2 separate regions of the Homo sapiens genome follow, and region 2 is linked to region 1. Evidence: fine-mapped expression QTL. A gene starts in region 1. The other region holds a variant in brackets. All regions are shown on one strand. Distances are from middle to middle. Region 1 holds the start of MAGEH1 (MAGE family member H1). Region 2 holds the start of USP51 (ubiquitin specific peptidase 51).

The links. PIP is the estimated chance that this variant, and not a neighbour inherited with it, causes the effect. A credible set is the group of variants that fine-mapping cannot tell apart.
Region 2: its variant is the best candidate, but not a certain one, in a credible set for the expression of MAGEH1 in blood mononuclear cells (TOPMed, PIP 0.65).

The regions. Positions count from the first base shown.
Region 1 is chrX:55,449,798-55,455,168 of GRCh38, forward strand. It overlaps MAGEH1 (MAGE family member H1), which reads left to right and starts at 2,330. Exons shown (of 1, transcript NM_014061.5): 1 at 2,330-3,769. The coding sequence starts at 2,578. The coding sequence ends at 3,237. It overlaps MIR4536-2 (microRNA 4536-2), which reads left to right and starts at 1,698; the gene lies at 1,698-1,785. MIR4536-1 (microRNA 4536-1) reads right to left here and starts at 1,785; the gene lies at 1,698-1,785. RefSeq lists enhancers at 2,543-2,592, 2,743-2,792.
Region 2 is chrX:55,487,904-55,493,274 of GRCh38, forward strand. It overlaps USP51 (ubiquitin specific peptidase 51), which reads right to left and starts at 1,945. Exons shown (of 3, transcript NM_201286.4): 1 at 1,873-1,945; 2 at 1,266-1,462; 3 at 1-1,085. The coding sequence starts at 1,036. It overlaps LOC101928692 (a long non-coding RNA gene), which reads left to right and starts at 1,038. Exons shown (of 2, transcript XR_244468.5): 1 at 1,038-1,143; 2 at 1,962-3,610. RefSeq lists enhancers at 501-1,360, 878-1,317, 1,538-1,637 and silencers at 628-707, 2,028-2,137. The variant C/G (reference allele first, on the strand shown) is at 2,199.

The DNA.
Region 1 (5,371 bases):
AGGAACAGGATAAATTGAAAATGATGAAATGTACAAAATTAAAATAAATGAACTAGAGTTCCATGTATTTACATGGGTAAACATAAAAAATATAAAGTTGAGCTGGAAAACCAAAGTGTTGATCAATGTATACATTATGAAGACGTGCTTTAAATAAAGGAAGAGATTCTATATTGTGTACAGACACAGAAGTAGGTAGCAAATATATACAAGTCTCCATGGGCATAATTGCTGACTTCATTATAGAGGAGCACAGTGGGGAAGGAGAGAGCAGAGTGGGTCAGGGAAGACGTAATAGGAGGGTTTTGCCATATCCAATATATAAAAGATAAACAGTAAGTAGGGCCTAATATTTAAATTTTATACAGCTAGCTATTGGTGTTTATAATATTAATCTCTCTTCTTTGCCCTACGTTTGAGATTAAGTCGCAGTAAAAAAAAATTCATGCTAAAAACAAGCAAATAAACTGCAAAAGTAATCCTCCCATTTTTGTTTCATGAGGGTAGGATTGTACATGCTATAGACTTCCATGCAAGACCCAAATTCCTGGAAACAGTAAAATAAGTTCATACCTGTACTGAAAAACAATTCAGAGCAATTATCAATGGACCAGAAACTGCGAGAATTCTCAGAATGTGGGACAGCAGATGGAGCCAGACTACTGTTTTGAGTAGGTCATGTCCCAGAACGCGTGCAAAGGTTATCCCAAACGGAGGGCTGGCTCAAGAGTGCTCTGTGTCCTGGAGAGGTGCTTTCTTTGCTTGACCAAATTGATTTATTGCTAACTTACCCAACAGGAGGTCTCGGTGGGCTCTAATTATAAAGAAAATTTCAGCAAGACAGGCATAAAGTATTCATTTGTTTCTTAAGAGTTCAGTTAAGAACACCTATAAAATCTTTTCCATCATGAATTCCTTCAGCACGCATTTATTAAATGCCACACTCACACACCGCTTGGAAAACCTTGAGAGGCAAAATCTGTGCTTACCATGTAATAAATGCTTTTCATTTTTTATCTCATTTAATTCTCACAACCCTATGAGGGCTGTACTTTAGCCCCACTTTATAGATGGGAAAACAGGCTTAGAGAGAAGTGACTTGCTTAAACTAATACCTTGAATGACATAAGAAAGATATAGAGTGCTAGTTATAGGGCTTTCCTCAATGGAGTAAAAATGGACTCATTACCCTTTTGGGCAGATCAAGACAAGCTTCAGGGAGAAACAGGTCTGTGAGCAGTCAAATGGAATTTAGATAGTTGGAGAAGGCTGAGAAGACAGGTCAGGCAGAGCAAACAGTGAGCAAAAGCAAGCAGTGGATAAAGTTCAGAGTATGCTCTGAAAGAAGCAAAATAAATCAGGAGTCCAGGAAGACTGGAGCCTAGAAACCTTGGAGCCAATCTGAACTCCATCATCCCCTCCACATTCCCCACTTCATCCATTCTGTCTGCAAAGCCCTTCAACGGTCACCTTTAAAATGTCTTTCTGCCTCTCCATCCCCATGGCAACAGCCTTAAGGCATACTTTAGTTCCCAGTGCTTCTTATTCCAATTGCTTCCTATGTGGTCTGCCAGGAAACAGTTTGCTTTTCTGAGAGGCTGCACAAATGCAATTCCTCTGATCCTGTCACTGCCCTGCTTTCATACATACATACATACATATATGTGTGGTAGATATATGCACTGTATATAAACATAATGTGGTAGATATATGCACGATATAGGTATGTATGTATGTATGTATAAAAGCAGGGCAGTATATATATCGTGCATATATCTACCACATTTTAAAGGCTCTGCACCTCTTTCACCCTGCTTGTTTCTGCAGTCCCATCTCCTCACATCATCCAGCACATCTGCCATAACAATATTATCCGGGTCCTACATGGGACCACAAATTGATTAGTATACACACAAATGCCTTCTGAAAACAGGGCGAGTGAATGAACGCGCTGTGTAAGCCAAGACAGGAAAGGAAGGCTGGAGACAGCTGACTCCTTCCAAGAATACACCCTCCCGCCACCCCTGGCCTCCCAACCCCCAACACACACACAGCCCGTCGTCAGTGGGAATGGAGCCGACGCACTCCTTCCCTAGACCGTCGAGCCAATCTTGGAATGTTTGTAGTAGGCTGAAAATACAGAAACTTTAAGCTATTTTTTTCTCTTCTGCAAACTCCAGGCCCCTCCAATCTCTAGCTGTCATTTCTGCCCTTGTCCCACCCCTGTCGCTGCCTGCCCCTTTTCCTATCTGCTAGCGGAAGTCCCTGTGGAGGACCAGCCTACTTCCTCTTTGGTGCTAGGAGTGTGCGTGGCAGGAGAGGCGGGGCCAATTTTGCTGAGCTTTCTCGCGGGCTTGCAGCTGCGGCAAGTGCTGGCGGCGGCTGCTCGCGCAAGTCAGCTGGCGTGGGAACTACCCTTTGTAGCTGAGAACGGCTTGTTTATTGCTACAAAGACTCTATTGACATTGGTAGCTTCAGCGGCAGCAGCTTCTTACGGTATAAAGCTGTTGCTTCCTGAAGAGGCTACAAGCATCCTTCCCTAGGACTGCTGTAAGCTTTGAGCCTCTAGCAGGAGACATGCCTCGGGGACGAAAGAGTCGGCGCCGCCGTAATGCGAGAGCCGCAGAAGAGAACCGCAACAATCGCAAAATCCAGGCCTCAGAGGCCTCCGAGACCCCTATGGCCGCCTCTGTGGTAGCGAGCACCCCCGAAGACGACCTGAGCGGCCCCGAGGAAGACCCGAGCACTCCAGAGGAGGCCTCTACCACCCCTGAAGAAGCCTCGAGCACTGCCCAAGCACAAAAGCCTTCAGTGCCCCGGAGCAATTTTCAGGGCACCAAGAAAAGTCTCCTGATGTCTATATTAGCGCTCATCTTCATCATGGGCAACAGCGCCAAGGAAGCTCTGGTCTGGAAAGTGCTGGGGAAGTTAGGAATGCAGCCTGGACGTCAGCACAGCATCTTTGGAGATCCGAAGAAGATCGTCACAGAAGAGTTTGTGCGCAGAGGGTACCTGATTTATAAACCGGTGCCCCGTAGCAGTCCGGTGGAGTATGAGTTCTTCTGGGGGCCCCGAGCACACGTGGAATCGAGCAAACTGAAAGTCATGCATTTTGTGGCAAGGGTTCGTAACCGATGCTCTAAAGACTGGCCTTGTAATTATGACTGGGATTCGGACGATGATGCAGAGGTTGAGGCTATCCTCAATTCAGGTGCTAGGGGTTATTCCGCCCCTTAAGTAGATCTGAGGCAGACCCTTGGGGGTGTAAAAGAGAGTCACAGGTACCCCAAGGAGTAGATGCCAGGGTCCTAAGTTGAAAATGATGTCGATTGGGGGCGGGGGACACTGTATTTGATATTTGTGATCAGTGATCATTGTTCAACTGCGAAATAGAGTGTTTGCTTTTGATAATGGAAAATTGTATTCGTTTTAAAATTCCGTTTGTTGAGAATAACAATATGTTTAAAAATATAATTGAACAAATTTTTTTCTTTGTTTCCTGTCATTGACATTTAGTATAACAGTTTTGCTAACGTTCTAAAATGAAGTCGTTCCATCATAATCTATGATCTTGTACAGCACTTATAGAAATAAGCTGTTCTTTTGAAGTTGAAATACCCAGTAAAATGTTGAAGAAGGATGGAGGATTTCTTCATATCTGACGTTTCTGAAACCCTTTGTGTCTGCTGTTGTGTGAAGATTGACATTTACCATGATTTTCCTTAGTTACTGCAGAACATAGAGAAAAATAAAAGCCTAACGAATAGTACATCTTGCGCATTTTCTGACCACCTGTTATGTGAGGCACCAGTCTAGATTCTAGGGATACTCCCTAGTACACATCCTCCAGGTCCAAAGAATGTTCTAGATTATGTGGGAAAGAAAAATAGGTAAACTGGCAGTGCAGTAAATGCTGGGATAGAGAACGAGCCTGAAGTGCCATGAAAATGTAAAAAACCTTATGTGACCTGTCTTGGGGAGTGGGCCGGGGAAGGGAGCACCATAGGATGTGTGAAAATTCAAGAGACACTTAAATAAGTTTGGGGGGGACTGAAATATACGATCAGAATATATGATGAAAATATTATGTATTAGATATTTGATTGGATACTCCACCCAGCATAGGGGAGGGAGCACTGGCAAAAAGAAGAGGACATCACAGGGTGCCTGCCACGGAAGTAGAAAATACACAAAAATCATCTTGAGAGGAGGAGGGCAGAGAGAAGGGGTGGTTGCAGGGGAAAAGGTTGTCATGGGGTACTTCAGAAATAAAAAAAGATGAGACCGTCAGAAAATCTTGGTGAGGGGACAATCTGAGGTTTGGAAATAATAGAGAAGAAGGGGAGGGAGTAAAAATGGAGGCACTGAAGGTAGCGTGGACATTTGGAAATAAACTCTTCACCGAACTGTTAAGGTTATATGAAGGGGAAAGTGGAGAACAAGGAATGAGGCAAGGGAAGAAGTGAGCGGGGCAGACCCTCAAAGGGTGGGTGTTGTGGCTGACTTTAAACTAATGACAATAAAAATGGTTAATAATAACAACCCTGAAATAATTCGAGAAAAGGCTATAAAAAAGCAGAACTTCTGAGATACTGGATGAGCCAGAGAAAAGGCTCCACCTGTGGCATCTCCGAAAGGTAACCTTGCACTTCTCTCAGGAACTATGGTTCGTTAGGGTGCACACATTGTTTAAAAGTGTGTGTGTCCAAGGGGGCAAAGGGGCAATGGAGTAAGTCCGGATTGGTACCTGGCACGATGGCCCATGCTATACTAAGTCATGTGGGATCAGGCGCAAATCCTACCACCTTTTCTCCAAGAGCTAAGCACTGCATGAACTAGGTCCCCTGCTGGGGAGCACTAGTGACAAGTGCCCAACCTAGCCCTGTGGGGCTCATGGTAGCAGCTATAACACACAAAAGAGTGGTCAGGCTACCTTCTTCCTTCTTGACATCCAGGCTCACGCTGCTTCCAGCTGTGTGCAAAGTAACGTCACTAGGTGCAGGGTAGGCTAGCAAATGACCTTCTGGAGAAGGCCCAGGGACCCACTCTCCTCAGCTTGCAGGCCAAGGAGGCTTCAAACAAAAGTAGTAACTATGACCCCATCAGCAGCTCCAAATTCATTCAGCAAGCCAGAAAATGGTGAGCGCCTTCTGGGATTCAGACAGTGTGTTAGAAACTGGAGCTGCAGAAAATCAAAAGGCCTGTTCTTTGCCCTGGGAGGAGCTGTATTTATCAATACCACCTCCAGAGGTAAACAAGGTGGGAATCTGAGGTCCAGGTTCCTCGGTGACTTTCTCTTCTAGAGCCACAGAAGTGGCAAGAGAGAGATCCTAGACAAGACCCTATGTCCATTCCCTGCAAACCCACAGTG
Region 2 (5,371 bases), 38 kb after region 1:
CCAATTTTGGCTCCTGTTCCTTTGTCTCACAGGTTGATTGCTTGTCTTCAAACCCTGATGTCATAAACTGTTGATGAGAAACATCTGTTGAGGTGGAAGTTAATAATCTCAAAATTTTTTCTTTTGTTTCTTTGGCAATCTGTTCTATGTCTTTGTCATATACATAATCCTTACACATGAAGCAATATATGACCCCATGATAAAGGTCTACAGCTAAATGGTGCTGCTTTGTTTCTGCATGTTTGTGAATATGTTTCTCAGTGAAGCAGCCAAAAAAGACACAGGAGAGACAAGAGTGGAGTCTGTTCATATGGGTACTACATACGTGACAGATGCATGACTTTGCTTTACGTTTCCTAGTCTCTGGGGTCCCACTCCAAACGAAACGCTGGTAGATCAACCTCAGGTTCTTCTGCCAGTTCTTACCTACTTTAAAGCTCTCCACATGAGAGCAGCCTGTGGGACCCTGACCAAACTCGACCTCCAGCAACCAGTCCCCTAAGCCGCCAGGATCCCCCGACCCGTCTAGGTCACCAGAGCAGCTTCTCCGTGTCTGAGGCCTGGACCCAGGCCGGGATCTGCGCCGGGATCCACGCCAGGCCCTGGGCCGCGGTGCGGGTGGGGGCGGGGGTGGCGGCGGGGGCGGGGGCCGGGCTGGAGGCGGGGGTGGGGCCGAGAGCCCAGGCTGGCTGCGGGAGCGGGCCCGGGGCTGGGGCCGAGGGCGGGGCTTGCGGCGCGGGCAAACGGGCGAGGAGCTGCTGTGACAGCGAAGGGGGATTGAAGGGAGCACCTTCTCGTCGCCGCCGCTGCTGCTCCACGTCAAGTTCTCCTCCGGCGCGGGCTCACGCTCTTGTAATGGCTCCAGCTTCATCTCCTCGGCTTCACGTCTCGAAGACGCCTTCGTAGCCCCCGCCGCCGCCTCCTCCATTTTCCCCGCCTTCTCAACCGCCTCCTCAGGAGAGGCTCCTCCCCCACCTCCGGAGATCCAGCGGACCCCAGAGCCGGAGGGCAAAGAAGTTTCTCGAACCTGGGCCATCAGATCACTCCCCGACCTGAGGAGCAAGGCGTCTGGAAAACAGCTGCGACTGTAGATGAAAGGAGACAGAGACTTCTGTGAATGATCTGCCCAGCGTCATGGCCGCGGTGCGCAGTTAGCGCCCCCAGGACCCCTCCCATCGGCCCTTGAGCTCAGCCCGCGGCTTCTGTCGGCTCCACCCACTCAACTGAGAGGCCCCTGGAGCTGATGGGGAGACCGAGGCGGTTACCTGCTTCAAAGGCGATCAGATCATGCCAGGGGACTGGGAACAGAAGGCTAGCGAGCGGTGGGGGTGGGGAACGGCCTGAGCTTTAGGACAGAAAGGATGGAAACTTCTTTAAAAAAGGCGCCACCCTCTGACTGCTTTTTTGCGCCCTGCGCAGCCTCGCTTTGGTGCAGCTTCCTCTGACGTTCTTTCCCTGTATCCTAAAAAACACTTGGGTCAACATTTTCTCTCCAAAATGGCTGAAAGGACGCACTTTTGGAAAATGAACTCACAGGAAGAAAGTGTCCCTCTGTTTCTACCTAACCTATACTTCTGTGACCCGGTGTGTTCCACTCTAAGCCGTTGCCCCTCAGCGCACTTTCGGTCCACCCAGCTCTTGCGCCCTCTCACGCTTTTTCGCGCTTGTGCTCTCACACCCCTTTTCTTGCTTCTGCGACTTCAATTCCTATGATTTCTCCTAGAATTCGGATTACTACTCCCTCCCTTCACGCATTTGCCACCTCTATGGCCACCACTATCCTCGCGCGACCCCCGAAGTCTCCGCTCCCTTTTCCCTCTCCTGCCCCCGCAACACCCCCAGCCCGGCAGTTTGTTTAAAGGTCTGGGTTACCTTGGGCCCCAGGCGCGTGATATAGAACGTCAGCAACTGCTGCTGTCCAGGCGCTCCTCAGCCAGCCTTCTCTCCTGACCTCTCCTCAGGGCTGGTCACAAGGGGGCCGCCCCCTGGCCCCTCCCCTCTCGACGTGCGGCCCCCAACCCCGGATTCTGCCCTCCTGCAGTGATGAATGGCACCGCTGTCCCGCGCAGGCAGGCAAACCTCTTCCTGAAACAGACTCTGCTGGAGGCAACAGCAGCAACAGATTCTACAGAAAGCCCCTGAAATGGAGGCTCAGGCCTCACCTAGCTCCAGGCCCGCACTCCACAGAAAAAAAGATT[C/G]ACCCGGCGTGGGGGTGGGGGCTTCCAGAGATGGCAACCCTCTGGCAGGAATCCCTCAGGATCCTGTCAGAGCCTGGTCTCTGGGAGTTGACGGAGGGAGGGAGGGAGAGAGAGAGAGAGAAAGAGAGAGAGATTATCCCAGAATGTGCAGGGGAGGAAGCATAAGCAAGGGCTCAGGCTCAGAGAGACCTGAGCCCAGGCACATGCTTGCTGTGTGACCTCGGATAAAACACTTAACTTCTCTGAGCCTTAGTTGTGTCAATTTTTAAAGAGAAATTGAAATAATAACCCTAGCCCAATGTGAACACTGAGTCATAGTATATATCAAGTAAAAGACCTTTTTGGCGAGCTTTATCTGTCACACCTCTTTTTTCAGTCCGCTCCTGAAAATCAGCATAGAGAACAACTCCTGATGCAGAGTAGAGGAGAAGAGAATGCCTTTCTCTTTCAAAGCTCTCTCAAAGTTATGGCTCAGTTCACCCGATCATCCATCCTAGGCAGTCCATATACAGGAGCATGTATTCAACAAAGATGCCATAGGTGCATTATAGCGCTAGATTGTGCTGGGAGAAGCACAAGATACAACTGTTTGTGTCCTGAAGTCCATACGCCAGGAGACTTTTCCTTTTCTTTGACAGATCCGGCATCCAAGGCGACAACCCGGAGGAAAGCTATCTCCAGGGCTTGTTGCCCTTCCGGTCCAATCCCAAGAAAATTACGGTTTATTACAGCGGATGTTTAATGCTACATTTAATCTCTCTGAGAAAGTCACACACCTCCCCTCAAAACCTCACGATTAGGATTCAGCTCTCTTAACTTGGCAGTGGCATCTAGTGGATACCTCCGCACAATGGATATCACTGATTTTGTGACTTGGTTTAGATTCGACCATATCTCAGTCACATACTAGCACCCGGAGGGAAAGTGCTTTGGAATTATAGACTGGCTTGTGCAGGAAAACGTGCTTTTTCTCCCCTAGGGAAGGGCATTTTCTCAGCCACAGCTAAGCAAAGAGTTGCTCCACTCTGGGTTAGCAGCCCTAGAAGGAAATGCTGAGTCAGTCATTTGCTAGCTGTGCCACCTGTGGCTTGGATCCCAGCTGCTCTGAGACAGCCCTGCACCCTTTATGCAGGCAGGGAGGCAGGGCACAATTTATAAATACTTCTGTCTTCTGAGCCTTCGCTTTCTCCTGTGCAAAATCAGAATCATGAGAATGCCAGCCCTACCTAGATTGGTTTATTCAGCAGATATGTAAAGAGCACCTACTGCTGCACTGGGCACTATGAATATACAGCCAAACAAAACTGGGCACAAAAGCAAGTAAGCCAGAGTCCCTGCCTGAGGTCCACATCGGGAAATGCATAGGAATGTGCTGTGAAGATTAATGTTAGTTAATAAAGGCCTAAAAACCACTCGTAATCAACAACTTAATATTTGGGAGGTGGGATTGTTACAGTGCTTCAAAAAGTTTCTGAAAACAGTTGTTATTGAGCTAGACACGCCTTTAAATCAGCCCACACGCTATCGTGACCAAACAAACGATTTCTTCATTGACAATTGTCCTGTAGGAAAACCTCAGGACAGCGTGATGGGTCACTACTGTCAAAATGAAAATGAATGGGTCTGCATGGTTTAGGCCTTTCTGGAGTTCACTGGTTCCTCCAAAATGAAGCTGCGTCTAACCTTCTGGTGGACTTAACAGACTGCTAGACCCCACTCCCAAAGTTCCCAGTTCAGTGGGTTGGGTGAGGCCCAATAATTTAGGTTTCTAACGCTGTACCAGCTGATGCGGATGCTGCTGGCGTGGAGATGGTACTTTGAGAACCACTACTGTGGGATAATGTGTAAAGAAGCCCAGGTCAAGGCACTCTGGCCTTGGTAGCAGGAGCCATGTCTGATGGAGCTGGTTTCCCAGGCCTGTGTTATGTTGGCGTCTCTTACAGATTCTAGCTGTGGCAGGTGTGGCAGGGTCCTTTGGGAGTGGGGTGGTGTATGAAAGAGCAGGATTGGGAAAAAGCCTGCCTCTGTGCTCCTGGTGGCTCGCTCAGTACCTTGAAAACTGGACCCCTGAAGCCTCACACAGCCTTCTTTCTCCCAATCTGGGCCTCTTCCCCTCAATGACCTCGCTTCTCAGAGGCCAGCATCCCAAAGGGCAGACTTGGAGCCATTACCTGCCCCTGACTAGGGCTGCAGGGAGGGTGCCATGGACTGGGTTCCAGTCCTTTGGGGCCCACATTTGTCTGCCCAGCCTCCTGCCCCTGTCCCCTCACTGGATGGATCCCCTCTTCTGTTCCTTTTCTTCCTGTGCTCCAGCTCGTAGCTGGTCTGCCTCCAACCTTCTGAAGCAACAGCCTCAGACACCACTGGAGTGTGCCCTCTCCTGCCCACAGACCCATGGTGACTCCCTGTGGTCTCTTGGTTAAAATGGAAACTGCCCAACTTACTCCAACTCCCCCCCACCCCCACCCCTGAGTAGGTCCAACCTCAGCTTCATTTTCTGCTTTTGTGGGCTCCAGCACTTCAACCACAGAAGCCTCTGTATTGTCCGTGCACATGAGATTACATATGTGAAAACATGCGGCCTGTCAGTCCATTGCCTTCCCTTTGCCCTTGGATGTTCATTTCAAAACATCCCCTAGAGTAGGTGTTTTAGTTGGGGTTCTCCAGAGGGACAGAACTAATAGGATATATGTATCCTACACACACACACACACACACACACACACACACACACACACACACACGTATATGTATACATATGAAAAGGAGTTTATCAGGGAGAATTGGCTCAAATGATCACAAGGCGAAGTCCCATGATAGGCCGTCTGCAAGCTGGGGAAGAAAGCAGCCAGTAGTGACTCAGTCTGAGTCCAAAAGCCTCAAACGTAGGGAAGCCAACAGTGTAGTCTTCAGTCTGTGTCCCGAGGCCCAAGAGCCCGCCTGCAAACCACTGGTGTAAGTCCAAGAGCCCAAAGGCTAAAGAACCTGGAGTCTGATGTCCGAGGGCAGGAGGAACAGAAGGAAGCATCCCGCACGGGAGAAGGATGAAAGCCAGAAGACTCAGCAAGCCAGCTTGTCCCACCTACTTCCATCTGCCCTGCCTTACCCGTGCGGGCAGCCAATTGGATGGTGCCCATCCACATTGAGGATGAGTCTTCCTCTCCCGGTCCACG